2 separate regions of the Homo sapiens genome follow, and region 2 is reported to be linked to region 1. The links are microRNA targets in miRTarBase. Many come from high-throughput screens and were not tested one by one. Region 1 holds a microRNA gene; the other region holds the end of a gene's coding sequence.
What was found. Region 1 holds the annotated microRNA hsa-miR-5089-5p (GUGGGAUUUCUGAGUAGCAUC, at 2,873-2,893, shown strand). A microRNA usually pairs through its seed, bases 2 to 8, with sites in the 3' UTR of a target mRNA and lowers its output. Matches are read on the target gene's strand: a 7mer-m8 pairs with bases 2 to 8, a 7mer-A1 pairs with bases 2 to 7 and ends in A, and an 8mer does both.

Region 2: the mRNA of MTRFR is a reported target of hsa-miR-5089-5p. Seed matches in the 3' UTR shown: 7mer-m8 at 1,035-1,041, 7mer-m8 at 1,171-1,177 and 7mer-m8 at 1,347-1,353.

Annotation. Positions count from the first base shown.
Region 1 is chr17:46,970,155-46,974,545 of GRCh38, forward strand. It overlaps MIR5089 (microRNA 5089), which reads left to right and starts at 2,863; the gene lies at 2,863-2,946. It also overlaps a transcript of LRRC37A2 not described here and a transcript of GOSR2 not described here.
Region 2 is chr12:123,256,225-123,260,615 of GRCh38, forward strand. It overlaps MTRFR (mitochondrial translation release factor in rescue), which reads left to right. Exons shown (of 3, transcript NM_152269.5): 3 at 589-1,736. The coding sequence ends at 807. Among named protein-coding and RNA genes, the nearest start is that of CDK2AP1, 13 kb to the right of the region's middle.

The DNA.
Region 1 (4,391 bases):
TTCCATCCCACGGCTGTCCTGCCTCATCTCCCCCATCATCTCAAAACAGGTACAGCTTCCATCCTAAAGCATTAAGATGCTTCCTGCAAAAAGATCTCAAGAAAGACCAGCCGCGGTGGCTCACGCCTGTAATCCCAGCACTTTGGGAGGCCGAGGTGGGTGGATCACCTGAGGTCAGGAGTTCAAGACCAGCCTGGCCACAATGGTGAAACCCTGTCTCTACTAAAAATGCAAAAATTAGCTGGGAGTGGTGGTGGACACCTGTTATCCCAGCTACTTGTGAGCTGAAGTAGGAGAATTGCTTGAACCTGGGAGGCACAGGTTGCAGCAAGCCGAGATCAAGCCACAGCACTCTAGCCCAGGCGACACAGACTCCATCTCAAAAAAAAAAAAAAAAAAAAAAAAACTCAAGACAGCAGAGGAGAGACGCTGCAACATGAGGACTCCAGCCACAATCAGTCGTCAGCTGAGCTTTTGCATCAAAGCCTGTCTGCGAGGCAGGGGTGTGCACTGGAGCCGCTCCACTCACGTGGACGGGGGCTCAGAGACCCGGAAACAGCATTATGCCCCATAATAGGGGATCAGTGATGTTTGCATAAAAGAGAACCAGGTACAAGCCTGAGAAGGATGGCTTATGTGGATATTAGTTACTGACATGAACCTTTGTCATCATACACTGATAAGTGAAAAACAGTATCACGGTATACGTTCAAAGTGGTGCATATGCTAGAATAACATTTTCTGGAGAAAATCTCAAACCTAATTCTATCGATCCCTCAAAATATGAAAGGCTGCATGCCAAAGGATTAATAGTGATTCCTTCTAGGTTGCAGGAATGTGGCTACTGTTTGCCAACATTTTTCTTTTTTTTGTTGCTATAAATGTTAATTACTTGTATCATCGCTTTAAAACATAGGCCGGTGCGGTGGCTCATGCCTGTAATCCCAGCACTTACAGTGGATCATTTGAGGTCAGGAGTTTGAGACCAGCGTGGCCGACATGGTGAAAACCCATCTCTACTAACATATAAAAATGAGCCAGGCATGGTGGTGGGTGCCTGTAATCTCAGCTACTTGGGAGGCTGAGGGAGGAGAATCACTTGAACTTGGGAGGCAGAGGTTGCAGTGAGCTGAGATCGCACTACTGCACTCCAGCCTGGGCAACAGAGCGAGACTCCTTCTCAAAATTAATTAATTAATTAATTAAAAAGGAAAAATATAATAAGGACACACTCCATGGCTTCTGCAGTCTCTTCTGAGCTGATAGTCAAGGTCCTGGCATGGCTTGGCTCTCCTCCAGTGCTGGGTTAGGGGCTCTGTGACCCAGTGCCCCACCCTAGCCTGGCCTAACTATATCCTTTGCTGACCTTGAACCCCACACAGATCCTGGCAAAGCTGCATGGCTCCATGAATACATGTATGTACATGTAGGAGCTTTTCATGCACTTTCTCACTTAAACTTTCCAACCACCTAGAGAGCTCAGCTAGAGTACCTCACTTTACAGATGAAGAAACAGGCCTTGGAAGGTGAAGCGACTTTCTCTGATGACTGGAAAGTGTGGAGGGAAGTCCTGCACCCCGACCTGCCTGTATCAAAGACTTGTCTCTCACGCCTCAAGCTCTGTGGTTCTGTGCACACCTCACCAGGCCCCCACTCACCCATCTAACATGTGTTTGTTCTGTGTGCATGTTTTTCTTCTGTGTTCTGGGCCACACCTGTTGGGCACCTCTCCCTCCCCGGCAAGGGGGAAGCTTTAGGAAGTAGAGAGAAAGGCAGGGCACAGGGCCTGGCTCTGAGGAAGGGTCACACTTACAGCCAGGCCTGGGGCTGGTGGGGTAGGCAGAGGGCACAGGGCACGTGGGGGAGAGGGGGGACCTTCCCAAGACAGGGAACTGTCTCAACCATAATCACCCTCAGTGTTGCTGCTTCCCCGCTTTATGTTCTATAGAGACACCCGGAGGGGACAGCCTGCTGTGGTGGGCACTGTGCTGGGCCCAGGCTGTGTGCTGACAGAACCCTGGGGCTGGGCTGGGGCAGGAGGCGAGACCCTGGCTTCCTGCTTTGCTTCTCCCGCCACCCGCTTCTTCCTCCTCTCTTCCCTTCTCCTTCCATCCCATCTTCTCCCTGCTGTCCTTTCATATGCTTCCTCTTCCCCCTTCTTTCTCCTCCTCCTCCTCTCCCTTCTTCATTTCTAGTCCAGCTATAGTGGGAAGAAGTCCCTGCAAGGAGCTCTGGCTCTTGGCCAAGAGGGAAGGAGAACCTGGGACAGGAAAGGATTCCCAGCAAAGGGTTGCACACTGGGCACCCCGAGCCCTTGCTGAACCTCAGCTTTGGAGCACAAGGTGGAATTCAGGTTTGTCAGCCTCCCCAGCTCAGCAGGGAACCAGCAGTCTGCACAATGTGACCGTTGGTGACGGATGTTGGCCTCTGCCCATCTGGCTGCATTGCTGTCAACATACAGGTTCCATGTCCCGGGCTTTCTGCCCAGGCACTCCCCTGCAAAGTGAGCCCCAGGAGAAACCCGGGTTTACAGCTGCTCTGTAGCCCCAAACCCTGTACCCCACTGGCTGACGCTGGCTACCCAAAAAGAAATTATTGAGGCACAGAGGATGGCAGCACTCAATCTCCCGTGTGGACGAGCGTCTCTGCAGTCATATTATTAGCATCTCGAGGGCAGAGCCTGAGTTGCCTTCACCTCTGCAACTTCCTTAGCACCCAGCATTAGGAGAGCGACATAAGACACACCTAAAAAATACTGGCACTGACATGCAAACCTAGGTCTTGTACGTCAAGTTTATTAGGAGTGTAAAACTTCTTGTAGTATTCCCTCTAACTTAGCCAGGTGGGAAAGTGTCAAATAAAAAGGACTTCAGTGGGATTTCTGAGTAGCATCCTTGGAATCTGCACTCAAGGGATGCTACTCGGAAATCCCACTGAAGTCCTTTTAATTAAATGTGTGTGCATGTGTGCAACCCACATGTGTACACGTATACCTTGCCCCCAAAACTGGAATGCCGGATGAGGGCCATTTCTGCTGTACCCACTGCCTCTGCCACTCATTAGCTGAGTGTGACCTTGAGCCCATTATCTAACCACACAACCAGATGACAATCTCATATGACAGCTGGCTTGCTCACTCTCACTCTGCTGCTGCTTTTTTCTTTTTCTTTTCTTTTTTCTTTTTTGCCATATAGATGGGGGTCCCACTGTGTTGCCCAGGCTGGTCTCGAACTCGTGGGCTCAAGTGATTCGCCCACCTTAGCCTCCCAAATTACTGGGATTACAGGGATGAGCCACCACACCTAGCCTCTGTTGCTTCGTTGTTGAAAATTGTTGAGATCTAGCGTTCCCCATGGGTTAAACTCTCCTTATCCATGGACTGGAGTGCACTTATCATGGGATCTCAAGTCTAAGTAATAGAACTATGACTGCAAGGGTGAGCAGGCGCTGCCTCAGAACACCCCGCAATGCTGTCATCTCAGAGGCTGGGACACCTGCCCCGTCTGCCGAGCTGGGGTTTGCTGTCCTGGACACCCCGTGTATCTGCTGTGATCTTTATTGACAAGAAAGAATCTTGCTTTCTTGACAAGAATCTGCACTCAAGAGATACTACTCGGAAATCCCACTTAAGTCCTTTTTATTAAATGTGTGTGCATGCGTGCGACACATGTGTACACGTATACCTTTCCCCCAAACTGGAATGCTGGATGGGGGCCATTTCTGCTGTACCCGCCACCTCGCATGCTCCATTCTTTGCCTCTGAAGCCACCCCCAAAGCTCAAGGCTTCTTTCCATCTACTACTGAGTTGGGGTCTGGGGAGGGCGACCCCCAGCAGCCACAGCCGTGCACCCCTCTATGTGAACTTGGCTTAGACAAGTAAGTAAGAAAGTAAGTGGATGTGGTGATGTAAGCCCTCCCTACTTCCCCCGTTCTAGGGGACATCTTGCTGGTGAAGGCACAGCTGACCCCAGAAGTACTATCCCCGACTCAGAGGACAGGATGTGGGGGATTTGACCTAGGCCCTGAGACGCATGGAACCAGCTACCTGGGGAGCAAAGCAAGTGCCAGGGTTTCTGGGGCGCTGGCCAGGGCCAGACGCTAGGTCTGCCATCCGTTGCTCACCCAGTGCCTGGCACAGTGCCTAGCCCACAGGAGATTTACAATAGACACCGGTGGAATGAATGAGCTTGGACAAGATCAGTAAACAGAATCTTAATTTCCTCTCCTATAAACAGGAAATTAGAGGAGCATCTGCTCCTCTTACCAATGTGTTGTGGGGAGCAAAGGAGGTCATCTCCGCCGGGCGCGGTGGCTCACGCCTGTAATCCCAGCACTTTGGGAGGCCGAGGCGGGTGGATCACAAGGTCAGGAGATCGAGAGCATCCTGGCT
Region 2 (4,391 bases), not on the chromosome of region 1:
TAACTGGCCACAAGCTAGATACATCAGTTGATACTTTCATAATTATTTTGCGACTTTAAGTTATTTGAAGGCCACTGTTGCTTCTAAACAAAATAGCACTCCTAATGATTAAAACAATCACACTGAAAGCCACATAATACAGCAAGGGTATGGGACACAGGGCAGAGGCAGGAAAGGGGCTGGTCTTCACTGTCACTGACTCATGGGGACTCCTGATAAGGGGCTTTGCCATCCAGGTTTGTCCCTCTCTATAAAGCGAACAGGTTGTCCTGACCAGCCTGGCCAACATGGTGAAACCCCATCTCTACTAAAAATACAAAAATTAACTGGGTATGGTGGCGTGCGCCTATAATCCCAGCTACTTGGGAGGCTGAGGCAGGAGAATCACTTGGACCCAGGAGGCGGAGGTTGCAGTGAGCCAAGATCACACCATTGCACTCTAGCCTGGATGACAAGAACGAAACTCTGTCTCAATAAATAAATAAATAGTAAATAAAAAAGCGAACAGGTTGAATTTAATGACTTCTGAGGTCCTGTCCATTTTTAACATCCTGTGGTTTTCACATTATAAAATATTATCTCTTACAGTGCCATCAGACAAGATCAGTTGATCAGAACAGAAAGCTAGCTCGGAAAATCCTACAAGAGAAAGTAGATGTTTTCTACAATGGTGAAAACAGTCCTGTTCACAAAGAAAAACGAGAAGCGGCGAAGAAAAAACAAGAAAGGAAAAAAAGAGCAAAGGAAACCCTGGAAAAAAAGAAGCTACTTAAAGAACTGTGGGAGTCAAGTAAAAAGGTCCACTGAGAAAAGAATTAGAGATTCCAACTGACAGAATCTGCCAGAAGCTCCCAGGGAATAATGGTGGCGAGTTCCATCACCAGCATTATTATAGTGCTTCAAAAGAAATATTTTTGATGAACTTAAAAGACAACAAATTTATTTAAATGGTGCACTAAACTGTAGTGAACAGAGACATGCACGATTCAAGAATAAAACTCGGCTGGGCACGGTGGACGGTGCCTCACATCTGTAATCCCAGCACTTTGGGAGGCCGAGGCGGGCGGATCACTTGAGGTCAGGAGTTTGAGACCAGCCTGGCCAACATGGTGAAACCCCGTCTCTACTAAAAATACAAAAAATTAGCCAGGCATGGTGGCGGGCACCTGTAATCCCAGCTACTCGGGAGGCCGAGGCAGGAGAATTGCGTGAACCTGGGAGGCGGAGGTTGCAGTGAGCTGAGATCGCGCCACTGCACTCAAGCCTGGGCAACACCTGGGTGACAGAGCGAGACCCCATCTCAAAAAAAAAATAAAACTAGTTCAAGTGCAATGACACACGCCTATAATCCCAGCACCTTGGGAGGCTAAGACAGGAAGATCACCTGAGCCCAGGAGCTCAAGATTGCAGTGAGCTATGAACACCACTGCACTCCACCTGTCCACTTGTTCTTGTGTGACAGAACAAGACCCTGTCTCTAAAAAATAAGATAAAACCATAAAGAAACACAGTCAGTACTATACAAGAATAATGGCTACTTCTAGAGGGAAGGAGTTGTCATTGTGATGAGGCACTTGGAGGGGTTCTGGGGTGCCTGACAAAGTTCTGTTTCTTCACCTGGGTGGTAGTTAGAAGGGTGTCCCCGTATTTCAAATTGTACCTTTGTGAGATTGTATGTTTTGTAATAATAAAATTTTTTTTGTAATTAGTAAAGTCAATTTTTATGGAGAACTGGAGAATGGAGTCAAACATTAATAGCATTTCTTGGCAACTTGCCATCTGCTGGGAAGCTGCTGCCCAGTGACACTTAAAAGTCAGTTATCCCCATGTCAGCTCAAGACAGTAAGAGAAAACAAGGGCCGGGCATGGTGGCTCACGCCTGTAATCCCAGCACTTTGGGAGGCTGGGGCAGGCGGATCATGGAAGTCAGGAGTTTGAGACCAGCCTGACCAACATGGTGAAACCCCATCTCTACTAAAAATACAAAAATTAGCCAGGCGTGGCAGCACACGCTTGTAATCCCAGCTACTTGGGAGGCTGAGGCAAGAGAATTGCTTGAATCTGGGAGGCGAGGTTGCAGTGAGCCAAGATTGCGCCATTGCACTCCAGCGTGAGCAACAGAGCAAGACTGTCTAAAAAAAAAAAAAAAAAGAGAGAAAATAAGAGGGTTGGAAGAGCTAAAGGCTCTGTTCCTTGTCCATGTGCTCTATTAGCTTCTAGGCTGTATGATGCCCAGTTGTGCCTCTGATGTAGAAACAAACACATTCCCTGCACGTTGATTTGCAAGATTTGTAAAGGTGAGGTTCCAGAATCTGATTTGCTTGTAAATTTACGTCACTTAAGCTGGATTTTACCTTACAGTTGTTTTTCTTTTAAAGCCATGCTTTATAGCTTGGCTTGTTAGAACTCTTCTGGAGTCCACGTAGAAAACAAATAGGGAAAAATGCTGAGAGGTGAGAAAGCCATTGGGAGATTGCCAGTTGCAGGGCCTCAGTTGTGCAGTCTGTCCAGCAGGCCTAGGCGGCATGTCCAGTAGGCCTAGGTGGCATGTCCAGTGCATACATCCAAGCACACCTTTCTCTTTGAGGCTGCCAATGAAGGCTCTTCTCACCTCAGTGACAGCTTTGGATGCTTACACATTCAATGCAGGGCTCATTCTACACCTCCTGTTGCGAGTGTACAGGACCCTTCCCCAGCCCAAACGCCCTGTAGAAAATAAAGGCTCTAGAACAACACCTAAGAAACCAGTAAGAGTGGGAGGGGAAATTTGGAGCTGGAGATAAGGGAGAATGGTTTCCGTTTGTCTCCTCTCTCATACCTTTGCAACTTTCTGCCACATGCAGGAAGGGGACACAGCACCCATTTCGCTAGAGCCTGTTCCTGCTGGCCTTCAGCCTTGTCATGGCTGAGAATTCGCCTCATGCCTGCATCAAAGAAAGACAAGTCTCTCTCATTTGTCTTTGTCTACTGCTCAGCAAAGCAAATTCTCATTGCAGGTATTTAGGGCCTAAGGTATAGAGTAAGAATTAAAATCCCTTTGGGAGGCACTGTCAGAGACCACCACGTGGACTCTCAACACATCCAGTGCAGCCCATTTTTTCCCTGGCACCAGAGCAGATAATTCTTCCAGTGAGCACCATATGAAGTAGCTTGAAGTTAGGAGCCGTACTTTATGAAAAAGATTCCTGTAGCACCCACCAAAAGCCCACAGGATAAGCACCTACGAACTGAGAATGGCCTAACCATGGGGTAACAGGCCAACTCAATAATACTGCTTCTGGCCGGGCGTGGTGGCTCACGCCTGTAAACCCAGCACTTTGGGAGGCCAAGGCGGCTGGGTCACCTGAGGTCAGAAGTTGGAGACCAGCCTGACCAACATGGTAAAATCCCATCTCTACTAAAAATACAAAAATTAGCTGGGTGTGGTGGCACGCTCCTGTAATCCAGCTACTCGGGAGGCTAAGCTGGGAAAATCGCTTGAACCTGGGAGGCAGAGATTGCAGTGAACCAACATCAAGCCACTGCACTCTAGCCTAGGCAACAGAGGGAGATTCCATCTAAAAAAAAAAAAATTTTTTTTTTAAAAACTGCTGCTGCTATTTTTTTTTCCTAGCATACACTTAAGTTTGCTGCACTTAAAATACACCCATAATGCAACTTCACTTTATCCCTACCTCTGACTTAGCAAACACATTCTTTCCCCAGCCAACTGTGCTAATGATATCACCAAAATGTTTCCGTGTCAGATGGGAAAATACAGTTTGAACAGGCATCTCCTACCTCTTGTAAAAGGTAAAGTAGAGGTTCCTCTCCAAAGACTTTCCTCCCCATTTAATTTGGAATAAACGGTAACTTCTCTTCGAAGCAAAATTTATTCAAAGACCTGTGCTAACATTCCTAATTATCTGCTAGCCGTGGTAAAGAAATCAATGTACTTTATGTTCTTAGCTCCCACAATTTAGCCTAAATATTTGTCCTGGCATGCTTACACTGGTCGGAGCAAGCATTAGGTCATAGCCTGTTCCTCTTCCTTATTTAAAAGTGTTTACCTTTCTCACCATTCCACAAGTTACTTTCTCCTTCCTTTGTTCTCTTCTGCCTTCGCCTCTTTTAAAAAGTTTTAAGTTGCTTCCCAATCAGGACAAATACAGAATATGAGGTCCCGTTCCAGCCAATGGAAACCGGACACAGCAGTAGGGTGGACGCATCAGGTTACAAATGACCCTGTCTCTTTGTTCGGTGTACTCTCGTGGCAAAACTGCTGGCGAATGTACCCTTTCTGCGGGAAGTAAAAATGGCCTTGCTGAGTAAATTAAATTTATGTTCAAGTGCTATTTCTTCACGGCACCGGGGAACAAGCATTTCAAACACTTTCATGAGAGATTATTTAA